Linked DNA regions of Homo sapiens: all the other regions are linked to region 3. Evidence: fine-mapped expression QTL. A gene starts in region 3. Each other region holds a variant in brackets. All regions are shown on one strand. Distances are between the middles of the regions. Region 1 overlaps RRP15 (ribosomal RNA processing 15 homolog). Region 2 holds the start of TGFB2 (transforming growth factor beta 2). Region 3 holds the start of RRP15 (ribosomal RNA processing 15 homolog). Region 4 overlaps RRP15 (ribosomal RNA processing 15 homolog).

What was found.
Region 1: its variant is fine-mapped to the expression of RRP15 in testis (GTEx, PIP above 0.99). The same link has a PIP of 0.9 or more in caudate, fibroblasts, hippocampus, pituitary, tibial nerve and whole blood.
Region 2: its variant is fine-mapped to the expression of RRP15 in minor salivary gland (GTEx, PIP 0.93). The same link has a PIP of 0.9 or more in subcutaneous fat.
Region 4: its variant is fine-mapped to the expression of RRP15 in stomach (GTEx, PIP 0.95). The same link has a PIP of 0.9 or more in breast.

The regions. Positions count from the first base shown.
Region 1 is chr1:218,319,395-218,327,503 of GRCh38, reverse strand. All of the region lies in intron 4 of RRP15 (ribosomal RNA processing 15 homolog), which reads right to left. Among named protein-coding and RNA genes, the nearest start is that of TGFB2, 22 kb to the left of the region's middle. The variant A/G (reference allele first, on the strand shown) is at 4,780.
Region 2 is chr1:218,338,918-218,347,026 of GRCh38, reverse strand. It overlaps TGFB2 (transforming growth factor beta 2), which reads right to left and starts at 1,691. Exons shown (of 7, transcript NM_003238.6): 1 at 1-1,691. The coding sequence starts at 325. TGFB2-AS1 (TGFB2 antisense RNA 1) reads left to right here and starts at 1,349. Exons shown (of 3, transcript NR_046268.1): 1 at 1,349-1,424; 2 at 1,639-1,852; 3 at 2,565-2,831. RefSeq lists enhancers at 1-142, 1,274-1,323 and a silencer at 1,704-1,763. The variant C/A (reference allele first, on the strand shown) is at 4,059.
Region 3 is chr1:218,281,890-218,289,998 of GRCh38, reverse strand. It overlaps RRP15 (ribosomal RNA processing 15 homolog), which reads right to left and starts at 4,706. Exons shown (of 5, transcript NM_016052.4): 1 at 4,544-4,706. The coding sequence starts at 4,682. RefSeq lists enhancers at 4,449-4,728, 5,259-5,328.
Region 4 is chr1:218,307,247-218,315,355 of GRCh38, reverse strand. RRP15 (ribosomal RNA processing 15 homolog) reads right to left here. Exons shown (of 5, transcript NM_016052.4): 4 at 7,724-7,925. Among named protein-coding and RNA genes, the nearest start is that of RRP15, 26 kb to the right of the region's middle. The variant G/AGGG (reference allele first, on the strand shown) is at 4,724.

The DNA.
Region 1 (8,109 bases), 38 kb before region 3:
GGTGAAACCCCGCTTCTATTAAAAATACAAAAAATAGCCTACGCATGATAGCACAGGCTTATAATCCCAGCTACTGGGGAAGCTAAGGAGGGAGAATCACTTAGGAGGAGGAGGTTGCAGTGAGCCGAGATCACACCACTGCACTCCAGCCTGAGCGACGGAGTAAGACTCTGTCTCAAAAAAATAAAGAAAACCTTGTTTTAAAGGCAGCAGAATGACTCTTTAAATTCTAATCCCTACATTTGCTAAAGACACACGTAGAAAGAAAAAAGGCAGAGGGCCCATGCTAAAGTGGCAGTTTGAACATAAACAACTAGTCTTGCTCAACTGCTATATTCAATAAAACTACAGAAAAGTGATTTGTTGTTTTAAAGACATAACTCAGAAGGTCAAGATCAGAAAAGACAATATCAACACAATTTTGAAGGTGAAGGAGATGGACCAGAAGACACCAGGAAAGTTAAATCCTAAGACTGCAACTATCACACTGACAAAACCAACCCTATTTACACTGCAGAATCTGCAAAAGAAACAGAAACTGGCAGTATGTATCAGGGACTTCTGGAAGTTAAGGGTTGAAGTGGAAGAACCAAAATAAAAAGCACTGGGGTGAAAGGTATGCTTTGAGAAACATTTAGTGCTCTACTTCCCCATCCCATTCCACAATAACCTGGCATAATACCTGGAGGTTTAAATTCTGAAGAGGTAATGGGCTTGCACAGATGAAAGCATAGGTATAGAACCAAAAATGGGATTAAGTTACACACACACACAGCAACCAGATATTGAATCCCAGCTCTCTTCTCACACTGGGCTCCCAAAATGCTGGTACGCAGACCTTTTTCTTCTAAGTAGGAGACTGGAAGAGTTACTTTATTGAAAACCTGACAAGTTGCTAATAAATTCACCCAGAGAACCCTACAGTGAAATTTAAGGTGGATGACACCCATATATTCATAGCTTCCAGTTGAATTTTTTGGTCTATTTGTTCTAATCATGAACACACAACTAAGGATTATCAGAAAGAAGAGAACAATGCAAACACAAAATTTAAAAAACGACTTGTAGGAACAAAAATCTCAAGAGAAAAAAATTTAGGGAAAAATATCATCAACATCCTCAAAGAGTTAAAATATATTGCATCCATAAAATCAGAACAGTTGTTATTTGATTTCACCTTGTTTATTTATTATTTTTGAGATGAAGTTTCACTCTTGTTGCCTAGGCTGGAGTGCAATGGTGCATTCTTGGCTCACTGCAACCTCCACCTCTTGGGTTCAACCGATTATCCTGCCTCAGCCTCCCGAGTAGCTGGGATTACAGGCACCTGCCACCACGCCCAGCTAATTTTTTGTATTTTTAGTAAAGATGGGGTTTCACCATGTTGGCCAAACTGGTCTCAAACTACTGACTTCACGTGATCCACCCACCTTGGCCTCCCAAAGTGCTAAGATTACAGGCCTGAACCACCACACTCGGCCAACAGTTGCTATTTTAAAAGAAACATTAGGAGAATAACAAAGAGCTTAAAATTAAAAATATGGTGGAAGAAACAAAACAAAAAACCACATTATAAAAGTCAGAAGATAACGCTGAGGAAATTGCCCAGAAAATAGACTAAAAGAAAAGAGATGAAAAATGGAAGAAAAAGATAACTGGAGAACCAGTCCAAGAGGCCCAGTATGCAAATAATAGGAGTTCTACAGACAGAGAAAAAATGTACAGGAGGAAATTAATAAAATACTTTAACAAAATTTCCCAGTGAAGGACACACATTTCCAGATTAAAACCAGCCCTCGAGTGTCCAGGACACAATGAGAATATTATTGTAAAACTTCAGGACAACAGGAACTAAAAGAATATCCCATAAGCTTCCAGGAAAACAAAAGTCACATGCATACCAATAATCAGAAATCGAAAGATTCAGATTTTCCAGTAGCAATATTGGAAAGCAAGGAAGCAATAGACAAATACTTTCAAAATGTCAAAGGAAAATAATATCCAACCTAAAATTCAATATTGAGACACATTATTATTGAAATGTGAATACTGAACAGAGGTATTTTCAGACATACGAGGTCCCCAAAAGTTTACTTCCAATGCAGCCTTTCTCAGGACACTGAGGATGTTCTCCATAAACAGATGGAGTAAAACAAAAAGAAGAAAACATGGGATAGAGAAAATAGGAGTCCCACCAAAGGAAAAAGAAGGAAACAGCCAGGATGAGAATGAATGGAGATTCCAAAATAACAACTACACATCACGCATGAAGGACAACCTGCAGCCAAGTGACTCCGTGGGACGGCATGCTGAAAGCGGTCATCACCATGACATCTGTCACTGTATGTTATTTTAACTTGACAAAACCGCTGGAGAATATGCTTTACCAAAAGAGTGAGAGTGAACCAAGAAAAAAAGGAAGATCCAAGAACCCAGACATAGGGAATTCAATCCAGAAGAAATTCCAAGGATCAAAGAAAATTTAAGTCCCAGATGACAAGAGTGAAGCAACCCAAGAAAGCAATCAGGGGATACAAAGGAAAATAGAGGCCTCTAGGAAAGAATATCTCAGAGAAAATAATTAAAATAGATACATCACTTCAGATCATTTGACTTCAAAAAACTAAATTAATAAAGGAAATTAAATATGAAAAGTCAAGACAATGATTAACTTCAGGAAAAATAGAAAGGAAACATATAAATATGGAATATTACAACATTCAGCTGTAAATAATTTTTTCACACGAATAAGAAATGCTGAATACTGACAACTATAATTGTAAACTACATTGAGTGGCCAAAGGAGAAGAGACTGTGTAAGATAATTAAATCTTTGCCTACTAAAACAGAAAACTAATAGATAATGCCTCAAACTGATTAATCAAAAGATACGACTACACATATGCACATGAGTTAGTGATGGCAGTGGCCGACCATCCGGAGTGGCTGCTGCCATCACACCAGTTGCAGCAGGGAGGTGCAGGCGGTGGTAGCAGGAGCGGAAGCAGCAGTGGCGGCGCTGGAACCCTTGTGCCCCGCGTCCCTGAGGCAGATAATTGTGTCACACCCACGCTCACACAGGCAGGCAGGACCCACTCCCAGGCCCGGAGCCTCTGCCATGGCCTCAACCTCACTGCCGGCCGCGTCTTGGGAACCCGCGAGTACCCGGCCGAAGGTGCAGGCAAGACTCAAGGGGCCAGCCCCCAGAGCGTCGGGTTCATTTGTGCGGGGTTGGCAGGGGCCATGCCACCTGCACCTCCCCTGCAGCTGCTGCTGCAGGGAAAACATGGAGTAGGCACCAGTTCCCAGGCCCGCTCCTGGGAATCACAGCGATGGGGCCAGACTAAGTCACCCGCCAGCAAAGGAGCAGCACAGTCAGGCACGGAGGGGCAGGCTGAGAGGGGCCAAGAGGAGGACTTGGGCCTGGGACGGTGCCAGGCTCCACAGAGCTGGTGGGAGTTGGGAGCAGGCAGAAGCCCCGCCCTCGCAGGAATAGCTGCAGCAACCCAAGTCCCGGCTGCAGACCTAGGTATGGCTGCACTCTGGAGTGGAGGGGGCCAGGAAGGCGCCCCCTGCCCCTGCAGGCTCGGAAGTATCTTCTCCCACTGCCCGGTTTCTCCCCGCTCCCAGTGCCCGCTCTGATCTCAGAGCAAGGTTGGAGCGGAACCCGGGCACTGTTACAGCCCAGCTGGGTATACGCACACTGGGGGCAGCGCTGACATGCCAGGCCCCTGCCCCCTTGGCCCCCTCCGGACTTTGGGTGCCAACAAGCATGAGAGGGAGGCCGAGGTGGGGCTAAGGGCAGCTCAGCATTGACCTGCAGGCACTCCTTGGCCAGAACAGTCTGGGCGCCATGAGCAGTGGCAGGAAGCAGACAGGCTTCTGGGTAGAAGGGGGAGGGTCCCCGGTGAGGCCCCACCTTCAGGCCAGGGAGGGCCCGAAGCCTGGGGACCGGGCTGCCAGTCCTGGGGACCAGAGTGGGAACTTGTAGTGCTTTTTCTGGGCCCATCCACGGTAGCCCATGGACCAATTGGTACTCAGTTCCTCTCCTCTAAGGCCCATAAAAAGCCCCGAACTCAGCCAGACCCAGAGACAACAAGACCACCAGCTGCAGCGAGGAGCTATCCACCCCAGGGTCTCCTCTGTTCTATCGCTCAATAAAGCTCCTCTTCATCTTGCTCATCCTCCACTTGTCTGTGTACCTCATTCTTCCTGGATGCAGCACAAGAACTCGGGACCTGCCGAACGGCGGGGCTAAAAGAGGTGTAACACAAACAGCGCTGAAATATGTCCCTTGCTCACCACGTTGCAGGTGACAAGGAAAGAAGAAGGAGAGAAGAGCTGCAGCCCTTCGGGAAGCCCAGACCTAGGAGCTCCCTGAGCCAGGGCTGTGACACCTCTTTAGGGCTCTGCAGTTACTGGCATCTCCAAGCTTCCAGAACGCCACGACGTTCCCTGGTGTCGGCCATGGAAGCTGCTTACAGTACACCTGGTCCAGCTGCAGCCTCGCAAGTAGCCGGCGCCCATGCCATTGCCGGGAGCTATGGACCCTGCCGCAGCTGGCATGCCTGGCTGTGTTCAGTGGCAGGACCCCACTCTCGCTCATACATCCCTCGCTCTTGGCAGGCATGGGATCCAGGCTGGTAGCACGAGCCGAGCGCAGACTGCCAGGCTGAGTGGGCAAAACGAGCCCATAGGACCGAGCAAAACAGGCAAAGGCACCACTGGTCACAGAGGTTTCCAGCTGGTGAAGCGACACCCAAGGATCCTGTAACATTA[A/G]GAATACAGAGATGTATAAATGCCAGCAGGACTAGCTAGAGAATTAAGAATTAGTTGCCCCTGAGATAGGAGCTATGAAGAGTAGGCAGAATGGGGTGGAAAACAACTTTATTTTATAATAAACGTTTATGGCAAAATGTGGCTTTTTAAACTACATGTATAAGTAAAGAATTTAAAAAAAAAGGGACAGCAAGAAACAGAAAAAAAAAAAAGTACACCTAAACCATTTCCACAAATCCTAAGTTTCCCAAGCTTTTTTCTACCAAGATCGTCCCAAAAATATCCTAAGAAATCCTTCTAGTTTTATTAACAATGATGATTCTGTTTTACTTCCTAACAATAAATGAAAAAGGGTCAAACACAATAAGTATACTATGAACTCATTGTGTGCCAAGCACTTTATATAATATTGCCTTATTTCTAATTCTCTTAAGATTCCTGGCCAGATAGCAAGTATCATGCTTACCTTATAAGAAAACTAAGGCTCAGAGAAGTGAAGTAATTATTCAAGTTCAGAGTTAATAAAGAGCTGAGTCTATACCCAAACACAGATCCATTTGATTCCAAAGCCCATGTTCTTTCCACAACACTAAACTTCTCTAAAACTTAACTGATGATATGAACACAATACAGTAATATACTGTGTTCTTATATAACCTGTTATAACCTATGAATGAGGACTAAAATACATGCAAAATGCTGAATATGCTTAAGGTAATTTCCATAAAAGATTTGGAGTAAATTACATTACACACTGGATTGACATAATTTCAATTTGCTATATCTTTTCCATAAATATGATTTACCATTAAGTATAAAAACTTCTTAAATACTTGGAGCACCCACACAAAAAAAAGGTAGATCAAAGATTAATATAAGAAAAAAGAAAAAAAAAAGCCTGAGGCAAATTCTAAATGTGTCATTCATCGGAAAAGCTTGCTTGGGGTGATCCCTGAATAGATTTCATTAAATGTTAAGACATCCTGAGAATGAAGGGTTTTTTGTTTTGTTTGTAAAAGAGAAGTAGCAATTTGGTATATTCTTTTTATAAAAGGAATAAAAAGAGAGTTCTGGATTTGAATCTTAGATAAGCCATTGACTCCAGTACTGCAAATTAGAAAGTTTTAGAGGTACAGGCCTTGAAAGAAATAAAAAATTTATTATTTTTTATTAACTGGTTATAGCTATAAGATAAAGTTAACCATACTGTACATGTTAGACATAGGTATTTACTATCATAGATGGAAGCTGTGTTAGCTGTTAAACATAACTAACTGTAATATAAATCGTAAAGTATAAACTGAAATAACCAAACTTTTATCAACTTACGGAGTCTTTCAGTGTTGCTGCAAGGCAGCACTGATTCAAAGACTTAAAGCAACCTATACAACTCTTTCTGCTTATATCAAATGAAAAGTAAAAGTGACTAAATGCAAGAACTTAACGAAAACTGCATGATGCAAGGAAACAAACAGTCCCCACCTTCCTTGGCCTAGTTTTATACAAATATTGAATTGAAACCATACAGAAGCAGTCTGTGTCCATTTTGAAGGTGAAGACAACCCTTAAAAATGTTAATCAGCTTTCATTTCAAAGCGCAAACATACATTGGCAGCCACTGAACACTGAAAAAGAAGGTTTGGAATTACACATTCATCTCACACCAATGAGATGGTTAACTTCATTTCATTTGCTGGGGTGGGGGATAATTAAAATCAAACCATAAAGAAAGAAACAATATAGTCTCATCTATATTTAGTAATCAACAATAGTTGATTTCATTGCTTTCCCTAACAAGAAAGTTCAGTTTTCATTTTAACTCAGTTTCACCTAAATTTTAAAAAGTTCTTAACATTGACTAAATTCATCTTAATATCTTTGTTGTTAAAAATTTTCAGTAAGCTATTTGCAATTGTAGTTAAAAACATACTTTATGGATTCAATTTTTTTCGCCCACTGATTTTTTTTTTGTTTTGTTTTAATTTCATTTACGGCCCCTGAGATAGGAGCTATGAAGAGTGTGCAGAATGGGGTGGAAAACAACTTGATTTTATAATAAACGTTTATGGCAAAATGTGGACATATGTACCCACTACATATGTCCTTGTTCAAAGCGGTTCTATTTGGTGGTTTCTATTATTATACATCTTGTTATCCATACATTTAGTTCTTAATTCAACATTGATTTTCCTCAACATTTAAATTATCTTAAGAACTCTAAGTAAGTTAAAGTTAACTAAGGTGACCAAGCCAAATGTCCAACAATGATAGACTGGATCAAGAAAATGTGGCACATATACACCATGGAATACTATGCAGCCATAAAAAATGATGAGTTCATGTCCTTTGTAGGGACATGGATGAAACTGGAAATCATCATTCTCAGTAAACTATCGCAAGAACAAAAAACTAAACACCGCATGTTCTCACTCATAGGTGGGAATTGAACAGTGAGAACGCATGGACACAGGAAGGGGAACATCACACTCTGGGGACTGTTGTGGGGTGGGGGGAAGGGGGAGGGATAGCTTTAGGAGATATATCTAACGCTAAATGATGAGTTAATGGGTGCAGCACACCAGCGTGGCACATGTATACATATGTAACGAACCTGCACATTGTGCACATGTACCCTAAAACTTAAAGTATAATAATAATAAAATAAAAGAAAAAAAAAGAAATAAAACATAGTAAAAAAAAAAAAAAACCTAAGGTACCTGAAAAGTCAAATGTAACACTTCAGGGAGCCTTTTGACAGTGCTCTATTCATTTTCATAGTAAATTAGTTGTTTGAAATATTCAGATACACTCTGCCAATTAGTCTCTTAAAGCACATTTTATCTGCTATATTATATAGCATATAAATGAAAATCCAGATTTATAAAAAATTAGCAGAGCTGTGAATTCAGCTGAAAAATAGATACCAACGTCTTCCTGATATCACAAATTTGCTAAAAAGCTTACATAAGAAAACATATGTAAAAGTGCTTTGCAAAACTATGAAATGCTATATAAACAAAACAAAGCTGCATCTAGTAAGGAATATGCACACTATAAATCTACTGAACTCAACAAACAATTTAGAAATAAATAGATTGGTCCCATCAGACCCCTTTGGAGAAACAGGTGATTCTAGGTCTGGGACACAGAAAGCACAAGGTTTGGGCTGGACATCCTGTCCCAGAATGCAAGGAATCACTCAAAGAAAATGAGGTCATGCCAAAAGGACACATGAGCCAGTTTACACAGGTTCTCACAGCCACATTTGCAAACTTAAGCAACAAAAAGTATAATGACACTCATTGACTGTAAACACTGAATAAAAATCCC
Region 2 (8,109 bases), 57 kb before region 3:
GCATGTCTATTTTGTAAACCTCCTTGGCGTAGTACTCTTCGTCGCTCCTCTCGCGCTCGCAGGCGGCCGCCCTCCGGCTCGCCTTCTCCTGGAGCAAGTCCCTGGTGCTGTTGTAGATGGAAATCACCTCCGGGGGGACTTCCTCGGGCTCAGGATAGTCTTCTGGGGGACTGGTGAGCTTCAGCTTGCTCAGGATCTGCCCGCGGATCGCCTCGATCCTCTTGCGCATGAACTGGTCCATATCGAGTGTGCTGCAGGTAGACAGGCTGAGCGCGACCGTGACCAGATGCAGGATCAGAAAAGCGCTCAGCACACAGTAGTGCATTTTTTAAAAAAGTGGAAAAAAAAGTTGTTTTTAAAAGTCAGAATAAAAAAAAGAAATCAACAATTCTCAAAGTATAGATCAAGGAGAGTTGTTTGGTTTTTTGTTGTTGTTGTTTTTGATGCGAAACTTTTGCAAACAATCTAGTCAATGCCCAACAGAAAAACGTATCCTGCTTGAATTCCTTTAAAAAGAAAAGGCCAGTAGTTCCAAAAGTGGAAATATTAATACGGGACGGGCAGAGGGAACCCTGACTTTGGCGAGTAAGAAGAAAAAAATTCTTGGAGCAATGAGATGGGGAAAAAAAGAGACGAGTGGCTATTAAGTAGAAATAAATTTAAGAGGAGGAAGTGGAGTTCAGTGTGTCAGTCTCGGGTGCGGAGTGGCGGATCTGAACTCGGCTCCTCCGGCCAAAAGGGAAGAGATGAAAAGGTCCCGGGGCTGGCAGCTGGCGAACTGACGGGAGGGGCGCCGGGAGCGCGGTGAGGGGGGCCGCCGAGGCTGACCTGGGCTGAAATTTATATATTTAAAGAAGGAGCGGTTCGGTCCTGCCTTCCACTGCGGCGCTGAGAGCAGGAGCAGCAGCAGCTCCGGAGCAGAGAAGCGCACACGTGTGTGCGTGCGTGTGTGTGTGTGTGTGTGTGTGTGCGTGTGCGCGCGCTGGGGGCGAGCCCAGCGCACCGCGGGGAGGAGGGTGCGCTTCGCAGGGCGCTCGGTACTCGGTCGGGTGCCGCAGGGGCCGCAGAGGCTGCTGAGGCGGCGCGGATCCTGCTCTGGGAGCTGCGCTCCGTGGCCTACACCCTGGCGGGCGCGCGCTGACCCGCTTGGTTACTCCACGTTGCTGCCGCCGCCGCTTGCAAACGCTTCCAGCCTCCAGCTCCCTCCTTCTCCTGCTCCTCCTTCTCTTGCTCCAAACGCCAACCCAGCCACAGACGATCAGCCGTCGCGGTTGCGTTCACCCCCTGCGGATCACAACGGCAGCCCTTGCGACACCCTGGCTGGGGAGTTTTATTCCTGAGGGGGTTGCGCAGGGGCTCCCTTGGACTCCCACCCTTTCCCAACCTCTGCTGGCTTCTCCCCAACGTGGAATTGCTCGCTTAGGGTAGGTAGGCACTTGCCACCCTAAAATAGATCCTCTCTGTCTCCTCCTGTCTGCAGCCGGGCAGCCCCTCAGTTTGTTCCTGGATGACTCCCTAGACCGTCAGGCTAATATTCTCCATCCCCCTCCCCTGCCTCTTTCACTTGCGCTCTCGCTCTGCTGTCTCTTTCTCTCTTTCTCTTTCTATCTCTATCTCAATCTGTCTTTCTCTTGTCAGGAGCTTCTGGAGCTCCGCTCGGAGCGAACCTTCTGCTGCCAGCAGATAACATCACGATCTTGCCGGGGAGGGGAGATTTATAAGTTCTCTCTGAACCACGTGTCTGCCTTCAACAAAGTGACGTGCTAGGATTACAGTCAGAAGTCCTCTCGTTACTTAGACCACGAGCTCTCCCCGAACCGTTGAGGGAGTGTGGAAATGAGGACCGCTGTGGGTAAGGGAGGAAGGAGGTGGAATGTGCGCCCTGACAACAGTGATTTACGGTATTTACTTTCCAGTCATTTTGGACAGGTCTGTTGAAGGAAGGACAATCAAGTCTCCCGTTTTTACTTAGTGTAGCTCAGTCACAGCCTCCCAAGCTGAATCACTTGCTCTAGAAGGGAAGGCTTCCCTCCTGTATTATGTGTGCACACGCACCCCTATGGGAGGGAGCACTAGTCTACTCAGGGCCAGGCCAGTACTGAAGACATACCTTCCAATCTTTTAAATTCATGTCCTACCTCTTATTTTCTGGGATACCTTAGCAGGTTGCCATCCCAGAATTTATTTTGTTAGTTTGTTGTTTACAATGTACCCCTCTGTTTGTGAACTGCTGGAAAACAGAGATCCATCAATTTTACCTAAAGAATAAGGTATACTTGTTTGTTTTACTGATTTGAATGAATGGTCACCTTTATAATTTGCTGCCTAAGCCACTTCTTGTATGGCTTTCTTCTTCACCTTCTTGCTAGGCTAAACATTATCAACCAACTTCATTCTTTCCATAGCATTAATCCAGGAAGCTGGAATTTTAAGTGTTTGATGTCTACTGTTCTACACTACTCATAACTTGACATTTTCAATTTCAACTAAGTCTAAATTAGATGAATACAAGAATAACTCTTACCACTGTTCCACCTTCCCTTTTTCTTTTATTTTACCTTTAGTTACTCAAAGTCAACATTTTCATTTCGGCATGACTCTGCAGCCATACTGACCAGACAGATGATTTAAACTGGAAACTCTGTTGAATGTACTCCCAAACCCAAGATCTCTATACTGTTCTCTACTTCAGATGTTCCTGAGTTCAGAAAAGTCACAAAGAACTTTCTATCACTTTTGGAATTTATACTTCAGTTGTGTATGGGGCCTAGGTTATTAGTAGAGCACTGAATAAATAAAATAATAATAGCTAACATATACTACACTTAGTAATTTGATGTGTGTTGTGTATGGTCATTTAATCTTCACTATGAACCTATAAAGTGGGTCTTATTATCCATATCTGGCAGATGAGGAGACTGAGGTACAAAGAAGTTAAGTACTTTGTTCGAGACCACAGTAAGTGGTAGAGCTGGATTTTTGCAGTCAGGATCCACTATGTTCTTACCTACTATGTACTTCTGAGAAACAATGGTCCCAGAATATGTTCTGACAAACAGGAATTCTGGAGTCAAACAAGTTTGGGAGATACTGGGTACTCTCCTGTCCTCTTAGATTCCTCATTCTGGAACATTATCATGTTAAAGGCTCTGAAACTCCTGTAGAAGAGAAAACCTTTTCACTCTTTTAACCCAGCATTTTCCAAACTCCCTTGAATACAGAATTTTTTCCATTATCACACATTGAAAAACTCTGGAATAAAATAATTGTTCCAACCCACTTCTGAATAATTCTAAAAATTATGTATAAATCAGCACCAGCAGGTTCCTTTCCTTGATACCAGTTTTGAGTTGAAGCAAAGCTACCATCCCAGTAGCCCAAGAAAAAGATAATCAAGAGGCGCTACTGTCAGACTAGTAGTTTCATCCAGTTAGGTCCTCCCTCTGAGTTCAGTTTGAGAACTGCAGTAGGCTAGCTCTACAGATTGGACAAAAAGTGAATATTCTTACACCTGTGGCCATTATAGACACAGAGCAGGAGCTCCAAACCAGAGCTACTGAGAGAAGATGCTGCTGTGGAATATGGCTGGTTACCTGAATTAGCTATCACTGTATTTTGCTGAGGATACAGGTTCAGCTTCCACAAGCCAGTGAGCATCTTTCATGTTTATAGACAACCTTCTTGGTACAGACACTGATGCACCTTAAGTAGATTCAGATTAGAGTGTGGATAGAGTAGCAAAAGTTCATTTACATCACTTCTAGGAAAACAGCGCAAGCCATAAATTCTGATGGCCACCCCTCTTCCTGACATAGACATACACACTTTTGTTCATAATACTTAGTTTACTGAGTACCTATTGCTCACTTAACAACTCCTTAGACCTGAGACCCCTGACTTACTCATAAGAGGCTACTTTAATTTCCCCAAAGCCCAGGAGGGTAAGACGGGAGGTATTGGTAAAAGCTTCTGGAATGGGTAAGTGCAGTAAGTGAGTATAGCAGGAGAGGAGGAGCCCCTTTCCACCTCTCAAATGATCAGTTCTTTGAAGACCTAAC[C/A]GGCAAGATTGCTAGAGCTGTCTCCCTGGTAACCGTAAATGAATCATTTCTTCTATTAAATGGCTCTTATAATGCCTTTTCATCTCTATATTTAATGGAGGTCTTATGTGCCGGGGTCTCTACAGTCTTCATGGTAAAAGGGTATTTAAATGATATACACCCATCTTGATTACTTCAAGGAGGCAGGAGAGCACAGTGGTTTAAAGGGCAGGCTCCAGTCATGGTTTTTTGGGTTCAGATTTCTGTCACTTTCTGGCTTTGTGATCCTGAACAAGTTACTCACTGACTCTGTGAGTTTCTTATCCTATCATGTCTTTATTTCTGTCAAGGAATTTATAATAAAAATATCTGGCCTTCTCTCTCTCTCTCTCTCGCTCTCTCTGAAAAGCCAGGAAAGAACCCAAGAAGAATTTGCTTCTAGTTCTGCCTCCTAGTAGTTTCTGTAGGCACATTTTAAATATTATGGTATTTTGCCCCCAGTAATTATAGGAGGGAAGGACAAGAAAATACACTTTTGGTGAATAAAATGCTAAATGACTATCAAAGTTCAGTTAAGCATTCACGATTAAAGTCTCTTATTAAAGCCCTCAAATGGAATCTTTTGTTTTGAAATTACAGAGGTAGAGAGTGGAGCTGTTTCCACTCTTAGCCATTCTCCACTCATCAATGGGTCTATTCACTTAAGTAATGTGGGATTTCTACAAGAGGCTGAAGAAAACAAAACTACTCATCCCTGTCCTGGAGTTTTACGCCTATGGATCATAGGTCCTTACTAACATTGACCAAAGCATAACTTCATTTGTAACAATTCTGGAAGCTTTCCAGAACGGTTTCAAGCATGAAAAATCAGGAGGTGAAAAAAAGAAATACATGGAACGACGGTAATTGATTACATTTCCCCCCAAATAGTGATACTTGATAAATGCAAAATAACCCTTTAATATGAAAATACACCAAAAGTCTTTTAAGATTTTATTTATAATTTTATATTTGATACCACTATTCAAGAACAATGTTTGGTCTATATCAATTTTGTCTCATGTTCTAGATGCATTTCTATAAACAGCTTTATTTCATTATTCTAGTTATGAATAATGAAACAGAAAGGTGGTTTCCTTACAAAAAATAATCCGATTATTATTTCCATTTGTATTTAAAGGTTAATCTAAGGAAGAAGTGTTAAGGAAAAATGAGGAAACAATGGGCGGGGAGGAAAATGGAAACAGGGTGGGTTTAAAGAGATCAGAGGTGGTAAAAGATAAAGAGATAGGACCAAGAAAAACCACAGCATATCAGCAGGTTGTGAGGCTTTAAAGAGATAAACTCATCACACTAATGATACACTGTGGGAACATTATCTCACCCTTTGGAATTATGATTAGTTGATTGATTACTGCTTGTGGCTTTTGGGCCACTCATAACTCTACAATTTTAGCTCTCCAGGAAAGTCTTTCTTTGGGAGGCAGTCTCACAGTGGCCTGTGCTATGTCATCCCTGTAGCTGCAGCCTCTGGTTTCTTGCCCCTGGTGAAATTCACCCACTAAGATAGCATTTAGTAACTGATATAAATAAATGAACATATGGTAATAGTTGGGACACAGCATAACGCTATGGATAAGTGCTTAACAAAATCCTAATGTTGACAAAAAGAAACCAGCAGCAGAATTTTCCTTATTTTTTAGGGCAGTACTTGACACTCACCTTTACAGAATCTCTACTCCTCCTTCATTTACTCTGTCACCACAGAAGTTCACAGATAGACTTCACAAAGCAAGAAACCAGAATGAGGTTGCTGGGGAGAAATGGAGAGAGTGTTTTGGCCAACTAAAAATAAACACAAAAGATGAGAAAGAAAAAGAGAAGGTGAGTGATAGAGAAAAATATGACTGTGTTCTCATAATTAAAATGAGTATAATATAACAAAAGTTTTTTTTTTTTTTTTAAAGATACATGGTCTTTAAATGAATTTATGTGTCTGTCATCATCTCAGTGGGCTTCATAGATTGGGTAAAATTCCAAATGTCTAAATTTCCACTGCCAAAATTACCAACCTACATTTCAAACAAATATGCCGTTCTGCTGCCTCGATTAGCCTGCAATTAAAAAAAAAATAAATAAATAAAAACCAAGGGTCAATAGTAATTGCATAAAAAAAGAAAACCTCAGTGTAGTTTATGATAGAGGGAAAAATTAGTAAATAAGTATTTTTAAAAGCCTAAGTATGTAAGTATTTTGAAAAGCACAGCTATATAGATGGTTATAATTTATAAAACGGGAGACTACAGACCACAAACTCTCACTGATGATTATTTGAAATCTTAGTAGAAAATAAAGTTCTCATAACTAGGGTAGCTACATCATTTGTCACACAAATCCAAACATTTTTTGCAGTAAAGAGGATGCCACTCATTGATACACTAAGACAACAGGGGTAAATCAGGACTCTCCCAGATAATTACCTTATTTAAAATGAAGCCACTTTAAATCTGTAAGAATACATCTGTTAGTCTTTCACCTTTTTTCGGTTACAGTGGTGATATTATATTTTGCATACTTCCAAGACCTTTTTTTTCCTTTGCCTATGCAGCATATTCTAAAAATCACCATCAGAGATACATTTTGAAAATGCTACTTGCACAATTTTAGCATTAATATAAACCTGCACTGCCACAAAAATGAACCCCCGAGAGGTGCTTGGTCAAGTTCTTTTGAGCTCCATGAAAGCAGTCTCCCACAGAGAAAGGTAGGAGAAGATAAATACAACAATAATGGGATTAACAAGCATTTTATGTATTCTTTGTATAGCCAGAGAAATTCATTTTTAAATTTTTGAAAATCAACAACAGAAAAAGAATCCCAAAGGTAAAAACGAGTTTGGCCCCCCTTCCCATTTTAGTGCCAGTACAGAAAAAAAAAGAACAGTGTTTCTGTTTGTTGTTTGATGCTTGCAGGTCACATAATAATGACTTTTCACATGTTGATCCTTCTTGTTTAGCACACAGTAACTGCTTCATAAAACCAGGGACACCAGGAAAGTTACTTTCACATAATTGAAGGGGCTGTTTCCTGTTAACGTGAAAATTTTTGTGATCAAGAATCCTACCATTTGTGGTTTCTCTTTAGATTTGTTACATCTATATGAGTCCTTTTAAGTAAAAAGGCAGTATCATTACTGTTCCAAGCAAATAGCACTATCTACCATAAGAAATAAATATATGCCAAAGAAATAAATCCAGAAATGGGTGTGTCATTGTGACCTGAAGAGACAAATAATTTTGCCTGCTGGGTTATTGGAGGTAACAAGTTTTTTGTATCTGTTTCTTTAAGAGGACTTTGTCTTACAATTTTAAGTTACTTAAGATCATTAAACAATAGACTATTATAAGGTCAATCTGGTTATTTAACCAGTTGTAACAATTAAATCTAATCAATGTCACACTTATACTGATTGTTCAGAAACTACATACTCGTGTGCTTGTAGGGAAAAAGGATTTTTATCAGTTGACTCAATGATAGCTGAAATCATGCCACCTAGAGGAAAGCTGTGGTATGTCTTAAAACTTCATACTGTTAAATTCATTAATGTATAATTTTGCATTGATTTGTTGTTACTGCACATCAAATAAAAATTAGTTTCACATAAATATTGTAAAACATGCATTTTTAGAAAAGATGCTAGATCAACAGCAATGGGATATCCTTAATTATCAAGTTTTAGTTACCTGTTATCTCCTAGGCAATAACATGATAAAAATCTAATCCTCATTTATAAAGCATAATTTGAATATCTAAATTCTTAATAGCAAAAATGTCAACCACTTACATTTATGAGTCATCTAATGTCATTAAGTAACAGAGCAGCAAATAGCCAATATATTGTATCTTAGGAATAAAAAACCAATAGCTGTATATAGTAAATTATTGGATACCACTTCAGTAGAGTAGTTCCATTTCTGCAGCATCCAGATAATTCAAATATAAAGTTTTAATTATCAGACATGCTCAGGCAAGACCTATAATGAATTATCCAGTAGCAAGTTACAGAATAAAC
Region 3 (8,109 bases):
AAAAGAGATGCAGGCAAGGCCAGGCACAGTGGCTCATGCCTGTAATCCCAGCACTTTGGGAGGCCAAGGTGGGTGGATCACCTGAGGTCAGGAGTTCAAGACCAGCCTGACCAACATGGAGAAACTCTGTCTCTACTAAAAATACAAAATTAGCTGGGTGTGGTGGTGCATGCCTGTAATCCCAGCTACTTGGGAGGCTGAGGCAGAAGAATCACTTGAACCCTGGAGGTGGAGGTTGGGGTGACCTGAGATCATACCATTGCACTCCAGCCTGGGCAACAAGAGCAAAACTCCATCTCAAAAAAGAGAGAGAGAGAGATGCGGGCAAGAACTAAAGTAGTGGCAACAGAATAAATGGATTAATTAAACCAAATAGATATGGAAGCAACAGGAAGACTAAAGGATGACACTTGTGTTTCCAGCTTGGATGGGAGTAGATGGCAGTGTCTTTCTTAGAGACAGAAGCAGCTTTGGCAAAGAAAATGTGTCTATGGCATAACCAAGCAGACACAATCAATTGTTATCAACATCGTTATCACTGATCTTGAATTTTACCAAAAATATATGATCTAATGGTTAGATTATGGAATAAAACGAGTGGAATAACAGATAACATCTTGCACCTATGGAGGTAACAGTTTTCTACTAGGAAGCAATATGATATACTGGAAGCACTATTTCCAAGCTTCTTTTCTTATCTGTAAAATAGAAATGCCATCAGCTACCTTACAGGGTTACTAGAATAATTCAAACCTCTTTTCTGGGGAGAGCTCCAGCTTACAAATACCACATTACCAAAGGTGGGAAAACTTATTTGGCAAAAAGAGATGGGACTAGCAGTTTTTTTAGGTCAGAAGAGACATCATCGTCATCACTAATATTTATGAGTGGGTACCATGTGCCAAATATTAAATGCTTACCATATATAAACTCATTTAATTGTTACAACAATCCTAAAGTAGACATTATTATTATCCTCATTTTGTAGATGAGGAAATTGGGGTAGATAATAATAACTAGCACAAAGTCACTCTGAAAGGTAGTACCATCACAGGTGCCTCTTATACAATTGAGTGAACAGGGGAATTTGCTTCCAGAAATAACATATGGATTTTAGGAGAAAGGAAGGAAGGAAAGAATACTCTGGTTATAAACATTGGAAGTGCTATAGAAATCTGAACACAAAAATGTCCCTTGGTGATGAAATCTTCTTGAGTGGGAGGGAGAAAAGTTTGTCTCCATACCAAAGTCTCCTTGTCCCCAATCCTTTCTTTCCTTAGATTCAAAGGCCCAACGCTTTCACTTTCCAGATACTTTTTAAAATTATCTATGTCCTCCTGATTCCTCAAACATATTAAGGTAGTGGTCAAGAGCATAAGCTCTACAATCAAACTTCAATAATTGTTGTATCATTTATCAACTTGCTTATCTGCTTATGTACAGAAGTGGGCAAGTTATAAGCCTCTGTGCCTCAGTTTTTTAAATGTAACAGGAGGATAATAGCAGCATCTATCTCATAGAGTTGTCAGAATTCTCTGAGCTGATATATAGAAGGAACTCAGAACAGAACCAGGCACATAGGAAAGTTCCAAAAGTATAACTATTGTTATTATCCAATTCCTCTAACAGTGTAGTATGCCCAAAACCTATGGTGCTATAAGCTCACATGAAAGTTGCCTGTTTGCAAAATTGAATACTTTCTTTTTGAAAAATATTTCAAGTGGGGCCCTTCTCTGTCTTCACTGCTGTGTCCTAGTGCAGATCCTAACATAGAATTTTGCAATTGCCTACAAACTGTCCTGGCACTCTTTGGCAGTCACCGTACATCTGGCAGTAATATTTATAAACAACTGTCACCATCTTGCTTAAAAGTTCTCAATAGCTCCCTGCTGCCTACAAATACACAAGGCCCTTTATAATCTACTTTTAACCATTGTTTCCAGTTTTACTTCTAGTCACTTCTCTGAACAGCTGGAGCCATAACAGAAGATTACTTTGTCTGAAATAGGCCATGAATTTTAAGAGACCGCATGCCACTGTATATGCTTTTATGTCTGAGAAAACTGCCCTCTATACTCCCAGGTCAGGAAAACTATTCATCCTTCTAAAGCCTAGATAGAATGCCACCTTATACATTTATTCAACAAAACAATTTACTGAATACTAAAGTATGCAAAGAAGACCCTGTGAAAATAAACAAGACATACTTTTGACATTTGGGGAACTTATCTCTATAAGGAGAGAGATATGTTAAAATATAATAACATAGTATATTATCAATAATACACGTAAGATATAAGTAAGCAACGCCTAGGCTGGGTTCCAGAGGATATGAATTTCTCTGTCTCCATCCTTACCTTTCCAAAATTGAACCATGATCTTGAAAACTACCTTTTAATTATACTAATACACTATATTACAGTCCTGTGTTTAATATCTTTCCTAAAACTGAAATTTTAATGCAGAAATATATTCATCCTTTGTATCCTCAACACCTAGAGGGTGACTGGAACCTAAGGGAACACAACAAGTGTTCATTGAATTGAATTAGATAAATTAGGTTTCCATATTGGCCAAAAACCTTTTTAACCCGTAATGTGGCTGATCTATAACAGCAAGAGAACCTTAAAACCTAATCAGCATTTATAATAATACGCTGAAAAGTCAGAACAGTTCCAACTTGGAATTATCCAGTATTTGAATAGAAAAATCCAATTTGGCCAGGTGTGCTGGCTCACACCTGTAATCTCAGCACTTTGGGAGGCCGAGACGGGTGGATCACTTGAACCTAGGAGTTCGAGACATGCCTGGGCAACATGGCAAAATCCCATCTCTACCAAAAAAAAAAAAAAAAAAGAAAAAAAAAATTAGCCAGGTACAGTGGTATGCGCCTGTAGTCCTAGCTACCTGGGGAAGCTGAAGCAAGAGGATCGCTTTGGGGGGCGGTGGGGGAGGAGGTCAAGGTTGCAGTGAGCCCTGTTTGTGCCACTGCACTCTAGCCTGGGTGGCAAAGCAAGACCCTGTCTCAAAAAGAAAAAGAAAAATCCAATTTGTAAGCAGTACTGACATTTTGCTCCAAATATAGCAAATATAGTACTCTTCCCTTCTTGAACAATAGTGTTTGAACTAGTCTAATGAATTTAAAAAATATCAGAACCAGAAGTTCTAATTTTGGCCCAACAAATAGTTTGTTTTCCTTAACAATGTGGCAGGAGATGAAGACTCTAATTACCTAGGAATTGCAGTAGCATATGACACTTTCTTCTTGGTCCTGGAAGTCCAGGTTAATTCATTCATTTACTTAAATATCTGTGAAGGACCCACAAGGCAATAGGAACTGGGGATACAGTAGGCTCTATTTTTATGGAACTTATATTCCAATTGGGAAAGCAGCAAATACATACATCAAATGGTTTGGGCAGGGTTGAGAAAAAATAAAGCAGGGCAATAAGTCAAAAAGTGAAGAAAAGAAGGCAGGAAGAAGAGTAGTGGTGGTACGTTACATAGGGTAGTCAGGGACAAGTCTCTCTGGTAAGGCACTGGATCAGAGGCTGGTGAGGGAGAGACATGCCAAGCATTTGAAAACTATTCTAGGCAGCGGAGCCAACAAATGAAGAAACCATGGTGTGGGAGCATGTTTAAGGTGTTAAACACAAGCATACCGGTATGGCATGATTACAGTTAGTGGTTTGTGAGGGGCATATTGGCCTATGACAGACAACCTGGCCCAAATCATACAGCCTAAGGATTTTGGATATTATATACTGAGATGAGAAGCCACTGGATCATCTCAAACAGACAGCGGGCATAATTAGAAATACGTTATAAAAGAATAGCTCTGTCTGTTTTTTGGGTATCAGCTGGTACAAAGGAGCAATAACTGGGCAGTAGGAAGTCAGGGATTACCTGCAATTCCTTGTAACCTAATAAGCTGGTGCCAAGAATGATGGTAAAGAGGAGCAACAGACACAGCATGGTTGAAAGCCTCAAAAACACATCCTTCCTTCCTTTTATTATCAAGCGTCTCTGAGAGACATAGTTATCAAACACTACCAGTTTTTAATCGACCTTAACCACCAAACTCTTCTTTCATTCACTATTATTTAGTCTCTAAAACACGCACACATCTACCGCACAAAAAGTCAAGTACACCCCCTTCTTCCTCTTACCTCTTTTAACCTTTTGCTTCTTACACCCTATGAGACCCATTCTTCTCCTGTTTTCAAGTACCCTCTTCCTTTCACCCTTTGCTACTGTAAGTTTCTCGGTAGCTGCAGGTGTTTCACCCATTTTATTATAATTAATAATGGTGACCCTGAAAATACCTAGTAAAAGAATGTGGAAACTCAAAATTACAGTTGACAGCGTTACTTCTCTGAACACGACTTCCCCAAGCCTCCTCACTAAGCCAAAGTCGCCCCTCTGAAGTGGTGCCAAGATAAAACCCAGGTGGCTAGCAGCAAATGAAGTCGCAAGCGCTGCTTGACACGAACTCAGCCCCGCCTTTCCTCCCAGACACCAAAGCTCAGCCCTACCACATTACCTTCACTATCAGAAGTGTCTGTGGCCTCGTCTTCCAGCACCGACGCTACGGCTCCAGTTACCATTTTCATCTTCTTCTTTGGGGTCTTTTTCAGGTTTTCTTCCTCACTCACACGTGAGTCCGGAGCGGCGGCTGCCATTTTTCTGCGCCGGAAGCGTCACCTGACAGTTGCGTCCGGTGGCAACCAGAGGAACTTCTGCATTTAGTGCCGGTAACACAAGGTTCCGGGGCGGGGTCGTCTAGCCCAGAGTTCCGGGGCCGGAGCCTCAGAATGTGACTTGGAGAGAGCTCTGAATGGCTCGGTGTGTTTACGCGAAGTCCGTTCCAGGACGAAAATCAGCGGCTGAATGGCCTCAGCCGACTCCTCCGCTAGCTCGCCTGTGCCCTGGTCCTCCGCCCCAGTGCGTCCCCAGCCCGTCCCCAGCCCAGCGCGGTCCACTTTGATTTCCTAGCCTCGGCGGCTTCCCTTGTCTGCTGCCTTAATGTTGGTTTAGTGTCCTCCTCAGGTGTCTCTTACGTGCCCACTGAACGCCGCAGCAGCTAGGACGCGGGACAGATCCACTGGGGGCCGATAATTAGAATACGATCGTATCATCCCCCCGCCCAAGATAACACGCGAGACCTTTCTTGCAAACCGAATAGACTCACCTTCTTTCCCTGGGGCGGGTGTTGAATCCAACCGCACCCTTCTCCCTCGGACCCGGCTGGGGCCTGGAGGGTTTCTGGCGCCCGACTGCGCAGTGCAGACCGAGGGTGCGAATACCTTGCTATCCGCGCGAGGATCCTGCCTCCCACCCGGGGCTAGCTTTTCTCTGAAGTTAGCCTCTGTCACCAGCTCCTAGTTCCATCGAAGCACCTACCACAGTCGGCCTTCATTTTCCCCCCTAAAATGTTGGCTTCTCGCAGGAGGGGAACGTATTTCATTTACCATGTCCCCTCAAGGTTAGCAACAGAAGTTGGCCTGAAGTGAATTTTCCAAAAATATTTTTGGAAGGGATGAATGAATCAATGAATGAGTGACAGAATATAACTATTGACAAAGTTAATGACTCAGATGGATAATGCAGCAAACCTTTACTGGCTAGACTTGTTCTAAAGGCTTTCCCCAAACTTAGCGTTTTCCCTTTCCCCTCTTAAGGAGGTTCATAGATTGTGATACCCATAAGTCAAAAACAAAAACAAGAATCCTCATTTTGACATATTCCAGTAGATGTTTATGTAGGAAATAAATATATATTCACATCCTAAAAACTCAATACAACATTTTTAAACTTGGTTTTTAATTTTTTTGTCTTTTAAGAGAGAGAGGGTCTAGCCGGGTGCGGTGGCTCACACCTGTAATCCCAGCACTTTGGGAGGCTGAGATAAGTGGATCGCTTGAGTCCAGGAGTTTGAGAACAGCCTGGCCAACATGGTGAAACCCCATCTCTACTAAAAATACACAAATTAGCCAAACGCAGTGACGAGTGCCTGTAGTCCCAGTTACTCGGGAGGCTGAAGCAGGAGAATCGCTTGAACCTTGGAGGCGGAGGTTGCAGTGAGCGGAGATCGCGACTCTGCACTCCAGCCTCGGCGACAGAGCGAGACTCTGTCTCAAAAACAAACAAACAAAATCTACCACCACCACCACCAACAACAAAAAATTGTGCAGAAAAAAAATGACATTTTGAATACAGTTGGTAAGAGATGAGATTCCAGTTTAAACCTTTAAAAAGTGCAGGTATTGACCAGGCGTGGTGACTCATGCCTGTATTTCCAGCACCTTGGGAGGCGGAGGCGGGAGGATCTCTTGAGGCCAGGAGTTAAGAGACTAGGCTGGACGACATGGTGAAACCCCGTCTCCACTAAAAATACAAAAATTCGCCAGCCATGGTGGTGAGCACCTGTAGTCCCAGCTACTCAGCTACTCAGGAGGCTGAGGTGAGAATTGCTTGAACCCAGAGGGGCGGGGAGGGGCAAAGATTGCAGTGAGCCAAGATGGCAGGTATGGTGGCTCCAGCCTGTAATCCTGGCTTCTCCAAGGCTGAGATGGGAGGATCACTTGAGTCCAGGAGTTCGAGGCTGCAGTGAGCCATGACTGCACTACTGCATTCCAGCCTGGGTGACAAAGTGAGACCCTTACTCTTGACAAAATAAAAAGGGGTGCACTTTAGAGGTGCCCTTTAGGATGCTGCTGATGCCCAGCAGCTCTCACCATCCTGCTCAGTGTGATCCTTTCATTACCACTGTGTCCTGATCTGGAACCTATTTTTTTGCTGTCTTTCATAGCTAATGCTTGCTTTTGCCTAGGGCTAAATGTAAATTGGAACAAGGAGTTCCAAATAAAGTTGGGAATGCACTGGAGAAAGTTGTAGAGAAGGAAGCAAAGTTAAAAAAAAATGATTGCAGTGGTTCAATGGAAAACATGTTCCTGCATATTAAACACAAAGTTCCTGCATTAATGTTAGTGTTATTTAGTGATCAAGAAGTGATGTTTTGTGCATTTAACATGTTAATGTGAGTTTACGTATATATAGAAATTTTTTTTGTGTTTAGTTGCAATTTAAGAAATTGCCTGGAGGGTAGGAATGGCTGATTTGTTACACATTCACATTTTTCTTCCTTTAAAATAATATAAAATAGGATCCAGGTTTTTATCCAGAAGTCTGATTTTCAGAAATTGATTACTGCTGTTAAGTTGGAGATACCTATGTTAGCTTATTTAATCTTCACAATAAGCTAATGAGTTAAGTACTATTATTTTTTCCATTTTATAGATGAGGAAACAGAGGCACAGGGTAAATAACTGCTGACCGTCACACAACCAGTACATGGCAGAATCACATTCAGACCCAAGCACTCCACTGCAGAGTCTGCTCAACCACGGAGTTGCACTGCCCACTCAGAGGGTTGTGCTTTATCACTTAGCATACAGTCAGAATAGGCAACAAAAATTTCCTTTTTTCTTCCTGTTTTTTCTTTTTTTAAATTTTACTTTACATTCTGGGATACAAGTGCAGAACGTGTAGGTTTCTTACGTAGGTGTACATGTGCCGTGGTGGTTTGCTGCACCTTTCAACCCGTCATCTAGGTTTTAAGCCCTGCATGCATTAGCTATTTGTCCTAACGCTCTCCCTCCTGTCACACCCCAATCCCCGATTGGCCCTGGTGTGTGTTGTTCCCCTTCCTGTGTCCATGCGTTCTCATTGTTCAGCTCCCACTTATGAGTGAGAACGTGTGGTATGTGGTTTTCTGTTCCTGCGTTAGTTTGCTGAGGATGATGGCTTCTAGCTTCATCTATGTCCCTGTGAAAGACATGATCCCATTCCTTTTTATGGCTGCATAGTATTTCCTAATGTCTATGTACCCGCATTTTCTTTATCCAGTCTATCATTAATGGGCATTTAGATGGGTTCCATGTCTTCGCTATTGTAAATAGTGCTGCAATAAACATATGTGTGCCTGTGTCTTTATAGTAGAATGATTTATATTTTTTGGGTATATACCCAGTAATTGGATTGCTGGGTCAAATGATATTTCTGGTTCTAGATCCTTGAGGAATTGCCACAGTTTCTTCCACAATGGTT
Region 4 (8,109 bases), 25 kb before region 3:
GAAGCAAGAATTCAGCAGATCTAAGAACCAGAAGAAATGCACATTTTTAAAAGTACATAGCAATTTGGAGTCTGGGTCTAAGTTGTAAGATACCAAAGAAGCCAGGTATTTCAAAAGCATTCTCACCACTAATTATTTACCTATGAAGAAATTACAAGGTTGCCATTTATGACAAATAAATGAGAAATAGAGGAGTACCCTACCTTACCTCTATGTATGACATTTAAAGTGCTCATACCACAAAATCAGAAAAAATAAATACCTGGACTCTTCCAGTAACTCTTTTTCCTAGGGACTTCTATTAAAAATTATTGTCTAGCAATCACTAAGGAAATCACTTTCTTTCTTTTTTTTTTTTTTTTTTTGAGATGGAGCCTTTCTCTGTCACCAGGCTGGAGTGCAGTGGCGCAATCTCAGCACACTGCTACCTCCATCTCCCAGGTTCAAGCGATTCTCCTGCCTCAGCCTCCCAAGTAGCTGGGATTACAGGCCCCTACCACCACGCCTGGCTAATTTTTGTATTTTTTAGTAGAGACGGGGTTTCACCATGTTGGCCAGGATGGTTTCGATCTCCTGACCTTGTGATCAGCCTGCCTCGGCCTCCCAAAGTGCTGAGATTACAGATGTGAGCCACCATGTCCCGCCAAAAAATCATTTTCTAACAGAAACCAGCTAGCATTTTCCCTTACTATAAAATTATAATTTCAGTTTCATTATTAAAAAAAAACCTGAAATTGATATATTGGCAATTTCAAATAAATGAAAACCTTGTAGAAAGTCTGTAATTCAAGAGTACAAGTAAAGCCAATGCTTTCCTAAGAGCAGCCAATATATTCTCCTTAGAGACTCACAGATTTAACATCACATCCGCTTCTGTCGGCCTTTAGAGTAACAGAATTACATTCCAAGAAATCTGATTGAATTTTAGTTGGCTTTTCAAGAAAACATTAAAAGGAATAATTACAACTTTGAAAGCTAAGAAAAAAAATTAATGCCTCTACATTAATAAAATCTTGATTAACATACTGAGAAACAAATCACTCTAGATAAGAACATGTTTTGAATAGAGGAACAGAGGTATTAATCCTTTAAGAGTTAAAGCTTAATTTTTTTATAAAACTTTACTTAAAAAATATGTTTTTGTTGCTTCCTTAAACAGTGTTCTAAATACAATGTAATATTTTTAAAAATCACTCAGGGTCACCAGGCATGGTGGCTCATGCCTGTAATCCCAGCACTTTGGGAGGCCTAGGTGGGTGGATCACTTGAACCCAGGAGTTCGAGACCAGGCTGGGCAGCATAGCAAGATTCCATCTCTTTAAAAATAATAAAATAACAAAACATAAAATAAAATAAAATAAAATAAAATAAAATAAAATAAAAATCACTCGGGGTCAACATCAAGATATTGGTCAATATGCCTTGCCACATGTTGGTATGTAATTGGGATGATGCTTCCTGTATTTGATCGAAGAATTACAGCTTCTGGATTAGGGAATTCCTTCCAAATAACTGAAAATTAGTTATCTAAACCTAGAAGATATTACATTTATTCATGTGGAAAACTCTCTAAAATAGACTATTCATCTTCCCTGACTCAGTAAACAAGTTAATCATTCTTAAAGATTCAGGAACCCTACTAAGACATACAGGACTCATTAGTGCCTGCCCCAGGTGGCCTCACCATACTCTGCTATTCTGGTTGCCTCCTTGTTTCTGGCCATGCTATTTCCCGCACTAACCAAATGCTTCTGCCACACTGCTGCTGTTAACCTGATCTTTACTGTCATCCTTCTCATTTCTGATTATAACCTGGAGCAGTCACTGCCTCCAAAAATCTTTACCTCTCAGACATGTTCCATATTTTATATTCTCTATTTTGGTGAAAGCTGTCACCATTTCTGAGTCTCCCAAGTTGTAAACCTCTGAGTTATTAATAAATCCTCCCTCTCCCATATCCCTCTACATCATGTTAATCACAAATCAAGTCAATCTATACCTTAAAATTGCCTCTCCAATCTGATTCTTCTTTTCCCTTCACCCCAACCCAATTTACCCCACACAATCTTAGTTCACGTTCTCTCCCCTTGCTTTAATTATGGCAATTGTCTTCCACTAATTGGTCTTCTGACCATCCTTCAGCCCTTTCTTTTCCTTAAAAATAATGAAATCTTCACTAACTGAGCAACAGATTCAATCATTCCCCAAACTTCAGCACTGCACAATATTACTCTTGTAACAAACCTCTACATGTACCTCCTTAGTCTAAAATAAAAGCTGAAATAAATCAAAAGAGAAAGACAGAAAAATCAAATCTGACCAGATCACTTACCTTATGGCATTGGCCTCCAAATGCGTAAGGAATAAAGTCCAGATTCCTCAAGATAGGACACTTCAAATCTAATGCCAACCTACTTCCTCAGAATCCCTTTTTCTAACTCCCCACTCATTAGCAAACATCCTACATTCCAACTTCCATGGAAGAAAACAGGAAAGAAAACTATAAGGAATCTGAAAAATTACAGAACTGGCAGGCTTTTTCCCCCTTACCATGTTTACTTCATGCCATTTTAAAAATCAAAGCTAAGTTTCTTATATTCTTCTAAAGTACTTTCCTCCTGAGTCACATTTCCTATGACTATCCCCACATCACAATTTTTCCAACTTTACGATTTTCTAATTTCGTGAGCAATATATGTACCACCCAGAACAGCTACTAAAACAATTTGGCAAAGAAGGTTCCTCTTCTTGTTTCTAAATGAAATATGTGGTGATCTGATTCATTCCATAGAACCAAATCTCCACTGAATTTAACATTCAACATTTTACCCCAAAGTTCTATTTATTGGCTAAGAATCATTCTTTTTTTATGTCTTCTCACATCCACTAACAGTATCTTTTTTCATAGCCCTATCTCACAAAAATATAAATAAAATAAAATTAGTGACTACCAATTATTCACTACAAATGTTTTAAGAACGGGGATAGAGAAGGTCTTAAAAGGTTCCAAAAAGAAAAGAATCAAAACGAGCAGAGCAGCACTGAACCGCTCAATGGCTAAAAAAAAAAAAAAGAAAAAAGAAAGAAAGAAAAAATTTCTCTCAAACTTCTGAGAGAAAATTACTTTCCAACATGGACATCTATGTTCTATTAGTTTCCTGTGGCTGCCATAACAAATTGCTACAAACTAGGTAGCTGAAAACAATAGCAATTTACTCTCTCACAGTTGTGGAGGCCCGATGCCCATATCTGGCAAAGCCTCACTCCCTCTTGGGGCTTCAGGGGAGAACCCATCCCTTGCTGTCTCCTCCAGCTTCTGGTGTTTCTTGGCATTCTTTGACTTGCAGCCACATCACTCCCACCTATTCCTCCATGGTCACACTGCCTGCTCCGATTCTGTCTGTCAAATTTCTCCTATGTGTCTAAGAACACTTGTCACTGGTCTTAGGGCCTACCCGAATAATTCGAGATTACCTCCTTCATCTCAAGATCATTAATTTAACTGCATCTGCAAAAACCCTTTTCCAAATATTGGAAGCCATCTATCGGGCCAACATATCAATAAAAAATAAGGACACCTATACTCTCTCCCAGAAAGCTGAAAACTGTGCCATCACTAAAATGCAGGAGAAGGCCAAGAGAAAATAAGACGTTTAGTCCGAAAAAACAGAGGATACTGCATAGGAGAGAGGCGAGAGGCAAATGGAATTCCCAGGAAGGGGATAAAGCAATGTTGCAAAATGACAGTGCACAGCAGGTAAAGAACAACCAGTTTAGAGAGTAGCAGCAGGATGATCACAAGAAATATACTACTGAGAAGGGCTTAACAGTTCTTTTGAAGAGTATGGAAGGATTTTGGCATATACAAAACTAAAGGAAAAAAAAGGCAAGTGATAACTCCAGGAAAAATAAAAATTGTAACAAAGCTGAAGAAAGTAAGTATTATTATTGTATATTATTTTGCTCAGCAGTGAACAATATTCACATTGAATACTAGTATTCAATCTAGTGTAAGAAATTTTAATATACTATGTTGGAAGGACAGAATGTGGAGAGGTGTGAGGAAAACCAACTTTATCTTCCATGAAAGATAGTATCTAGTACTGATAAAGAAATAGTGTAAATATTATTTAAGATATGGAGGTAAATACCAGAAGAAAGTACTAAGAGTTGCCAAGGTATAGAGAAGAATGGAAAAGGGCAGTGGTTATTTTATTTAACCATAAATTCAGTTTTCATACTGTGCTCCTATTGCTTTGATAATAAAATTCTAATGCAGAAAAGACTCTAAGAAAAATGACTTGTTCGGCTGGGCATGGTGGGTCATGCCTGTAATCCCAGCACTTTGGGAGGCCGAGGCAGGCGGATCACCTGAGGTCAGGAGTTCGTGACCAGCCTGATCAACATGGTGAAACCCTGTCTCTACTAAAAATACAAAAATTAGCTGGGCATGGTGGTGCACGCCTGTAATCCCAGCTACTCGGGAGGCTGAGACAGGAGAATCGCTTGAACCCAGGAGGCGGAAGTTGCAATGAGCTGAGATTGCTCCACTGCACTCCTGCCTGGGCAACAGAGCAAGACTTTGTCTCAAAAAAAAAAGAAAGAAAGAAAAAGAAAAATGACTTGTTCGGGCCCTATCACAGTTAAAAAACATTTATCACAATGTCTGTTTCTTATACCTTGAAGAAATATGAAATTTCTATAACAATTATTTTTTAAAAAA[G/AGGG]TTCTTTAAAATAAATTCCCAAGTCATGTGTACATTAGGAGAAAACAAAACCAAACACCAAAACCACTCCTAAAGTATGGTTAACTATAATGGGCTCAATGTATATAACCTATGTTATATTATTACAATTCTATCCATATTTAATATAAAACTCCTGCCTCTTTTGATTATTGAACATAAGACTTTAATGTCAAAACTGAATAACACATATAACTGGGAAAAAGAATTGAAGTCATTAAAATGAAGGTGTTTCCAAATTGGTATCCTGATAGATGGCTGCCAGTGAAATCTAGTTTATATGTGGGTGGCCTCCAATTTTAGAGACTTCACAATATTAGGAATATTGAATTTAAAAATCTGTGCTCTGAATATCATTACAGCCCAGGGAAGGGAAAACAATAAGATTTCTTTTGTTCCATTTTATGATGAGAGAAGGAACACCTATGAGGAAAGAGTACAATAGCTATGGTGCTAGGACAAGGTTAAATATAAGAAAAAATGGCAAATATTACTTTCTACTTTCTTAATCTCTTCCTTTATTTAGCTCATCAATGATTCATTTCTGAATAGCACTTTGGCACATCAAATCTATGCTCACCTTTGCCACCCTGCCTTCCCTTGATCTACCTTAAAAGTTCACCTATTTCAAGTAACATACATAGATATAATGATCTATGCTCTAAATAAATAGTACACCGTTACTCTGAAATTCCCTTCACACAGGGGTAGCCACTTAATGTACATCTTGTTAGAGCTGGTGTAACTAATGTTAACGTGTACTTGACATACTAATTTAGAATTTGCCTACTATCAAGTTAATCTTGCTTACTTATTTACTTGAAGTCATTTGTCCATCTTAATTGTAAGATTTTAAAGGACACAACAAGGATAACACCTGGTAGAAACAGGCACTTAATAAATATGTTTTTTTTTTTTTTTTTTTTTTTTTTGAGATGGAGTCTCTCTCTGTCACCCAGGCTGGAGTGCAGTGGCACAATCTCGGCTCACTGCACCCTCTGCCTCCCGGGTTCAAGAGATTCTCCCACCTCAGCCTCCTGATTAGCTGGGATTACAGGTGGGTGCCACCATGCCCAGTTAATTTTTGTATTTTTAGTAGAGACAGTGTTTCACCATGTTGGCCAGGCTGGTCTCGAACTCCTGACCTCGTGATCCGCCCACCTTGGCCTCCCAAAGTGCTGGGATTACAGGCATGAGCCACCGCATCCAGCCAAGAAATATGCTTTATATCAGTAACTGATCCAATCTCAAACAGTGTAGTACTTTCATAGTTATTCAGATGCAAACTCAAGCAAAATTTTTAAAAAGGAGTCTGTTTTTCCATAAATATGCAATCAACATGAAAACACACATTTTTAAAAGAAAGAAATATGTCAGGGTATTGATGGCATGGGGCAGGGTGTTCTAGAAACAAATTACTTTTAGAGCAAAATCACTTTGGCTTAAGTCTCAAGCAATTTTTGACCTTGTCCCAGACTTACAAATACTGTGATCACTGAAGTAGAAAAAAAGAAAGTCAAGGGCAAGTGCAAATGGTAAGAAAAAAATACAATGCCAGTGGAAAGAATCTGTTGTGTATTTTCATAACTCATGAAAGAAATAATCCCAAAGCAAAAGTATGTGCTTCTATAAAATGTTATTTTGAAACCAATAGGAAAAAGAAAAAAAACTAAGTCTCTTCATCTTCCCACTAGTTCTTTCCCATCCAATGTTGCTGAATCTTTCTCTAACTCTTACAGTAAAATGTTACTAGCGAGAATACAGCCTATTAAAGCCTTTGAACTAAAAAGTATAAATCCCCAAACACAGTGTTCATGTATTTACAAGTACTTCTGATAGACACTTTAAAATAGCAGCACTAGTGAGAACTATTATTATATAAAAATACAATTTGAGCCCTTTGATATTCAAGAAAGAGACAAGTAGATTCAAAAACTTTTGTCACTTAGGTAAAATATGAACTTAAGAAACTTTAAAAAATGCTCCAACCCTAGGCTAGCATAAAATTCCTAAATGCTCTTCTTGCTCGGGTTTCAATTATTTTCCCAAACAAAAAAATTTATGACAGAAATTCTCATTTCCTGACTGATTAAAAGTACCTTTGGTTTTGGCAACAGAAATCAAGCCATCAAAATATAACTACATATTTTGCTTTTTTAAAACGACAACAATAGAAACCCACCGCTTATAAAAGTAAAGCACATCTCAAAACCTTTCACCTGGTACATTAAAAAGAAATTACTGGCTGGGCTCGGTGGCTCACACCTGGAATCCCAGCACTTTGGAAGGCCGAGGCGAGTGGATCACCTGAGGTCAGAAGTTCAAGACCAGCCTGGTCAACATGGTGAAACCCCGTCTCTACTAAAAATACAAAAATTAGCCGGAGGTGATGGCATGTGCCTGTAAACCTGGCTACTCAGGAGGCTGAGGCAAGAGAATTGCTTGAACCTGGGAGGCGGAGGTTTCAGTGAGCCGAGATCGCGCCACTGCACTCCAGCCTGGGCCAGGGAGCAAGACTCCATCAAAAAAAAAAAAAAAAAAAAAAAAAAAAAGAAAGAAAGAAACTACTGAGGCAGCTGGAGAAGCAAAGTTCTCATGCCAAAGGTCATAGAAAGTATTTATGCTCTTAATCTCTCAACCAAACATCACTAAAGATGCCTCAATGCAAGAATGACTTTCTACCATTATTTCCTAAAACTCTCTGACTCTTCATATTTTGTAAGTTACACACCCTCTATGGGTAAAGTCTGAAATTAAAGCTGTGGCCCACACAGGCTTCTATTCTCCAAAATGTGCAAAATGGCAGGATTTCAGATAGGAGAGAGGCAAGCCCTATCTCTAAAGGTTGCGGGCATGGAGGAATTTTAATAAAATTTAGGAAAAAAACACAAAACTCTGTAATTCTATAGTCTGGTTTTCCATCTCAAGACTAGTTTTAGAGCTGAAAGTCTGATACACTGAATCCTATAGAAAAGTTTTTACCTGTTTGGCTTTTGGTTTCTTCCTGCTTGAAGCAGTCTCATTTGTACTTCCATCCATCCCTCTCAAAACACTGATGAAATCTTTCTTGGAAACAGTTGATATCAACTTAGCACGCTTTCTCATAGAACTTCCAGCTTCCTTAACCTTTTCATCAACATTCTTTTGATGTTTCTGAACAGCATTAAATAATTGCACCACACCCCTGTAGAATATAAAATGACCAGAATGATGTATTAAATAATTACCCTAGAATACAAACTCTGAGGATAGGAAAAATGTATTTTCACTGTCTAGAAAAGAGGCAAGCATTTAACAAGTACTCAAAGGAAAGAACGGGATAAGTGGTTAAATACATTTGATAAATACAACTGAAAAATGAATATACA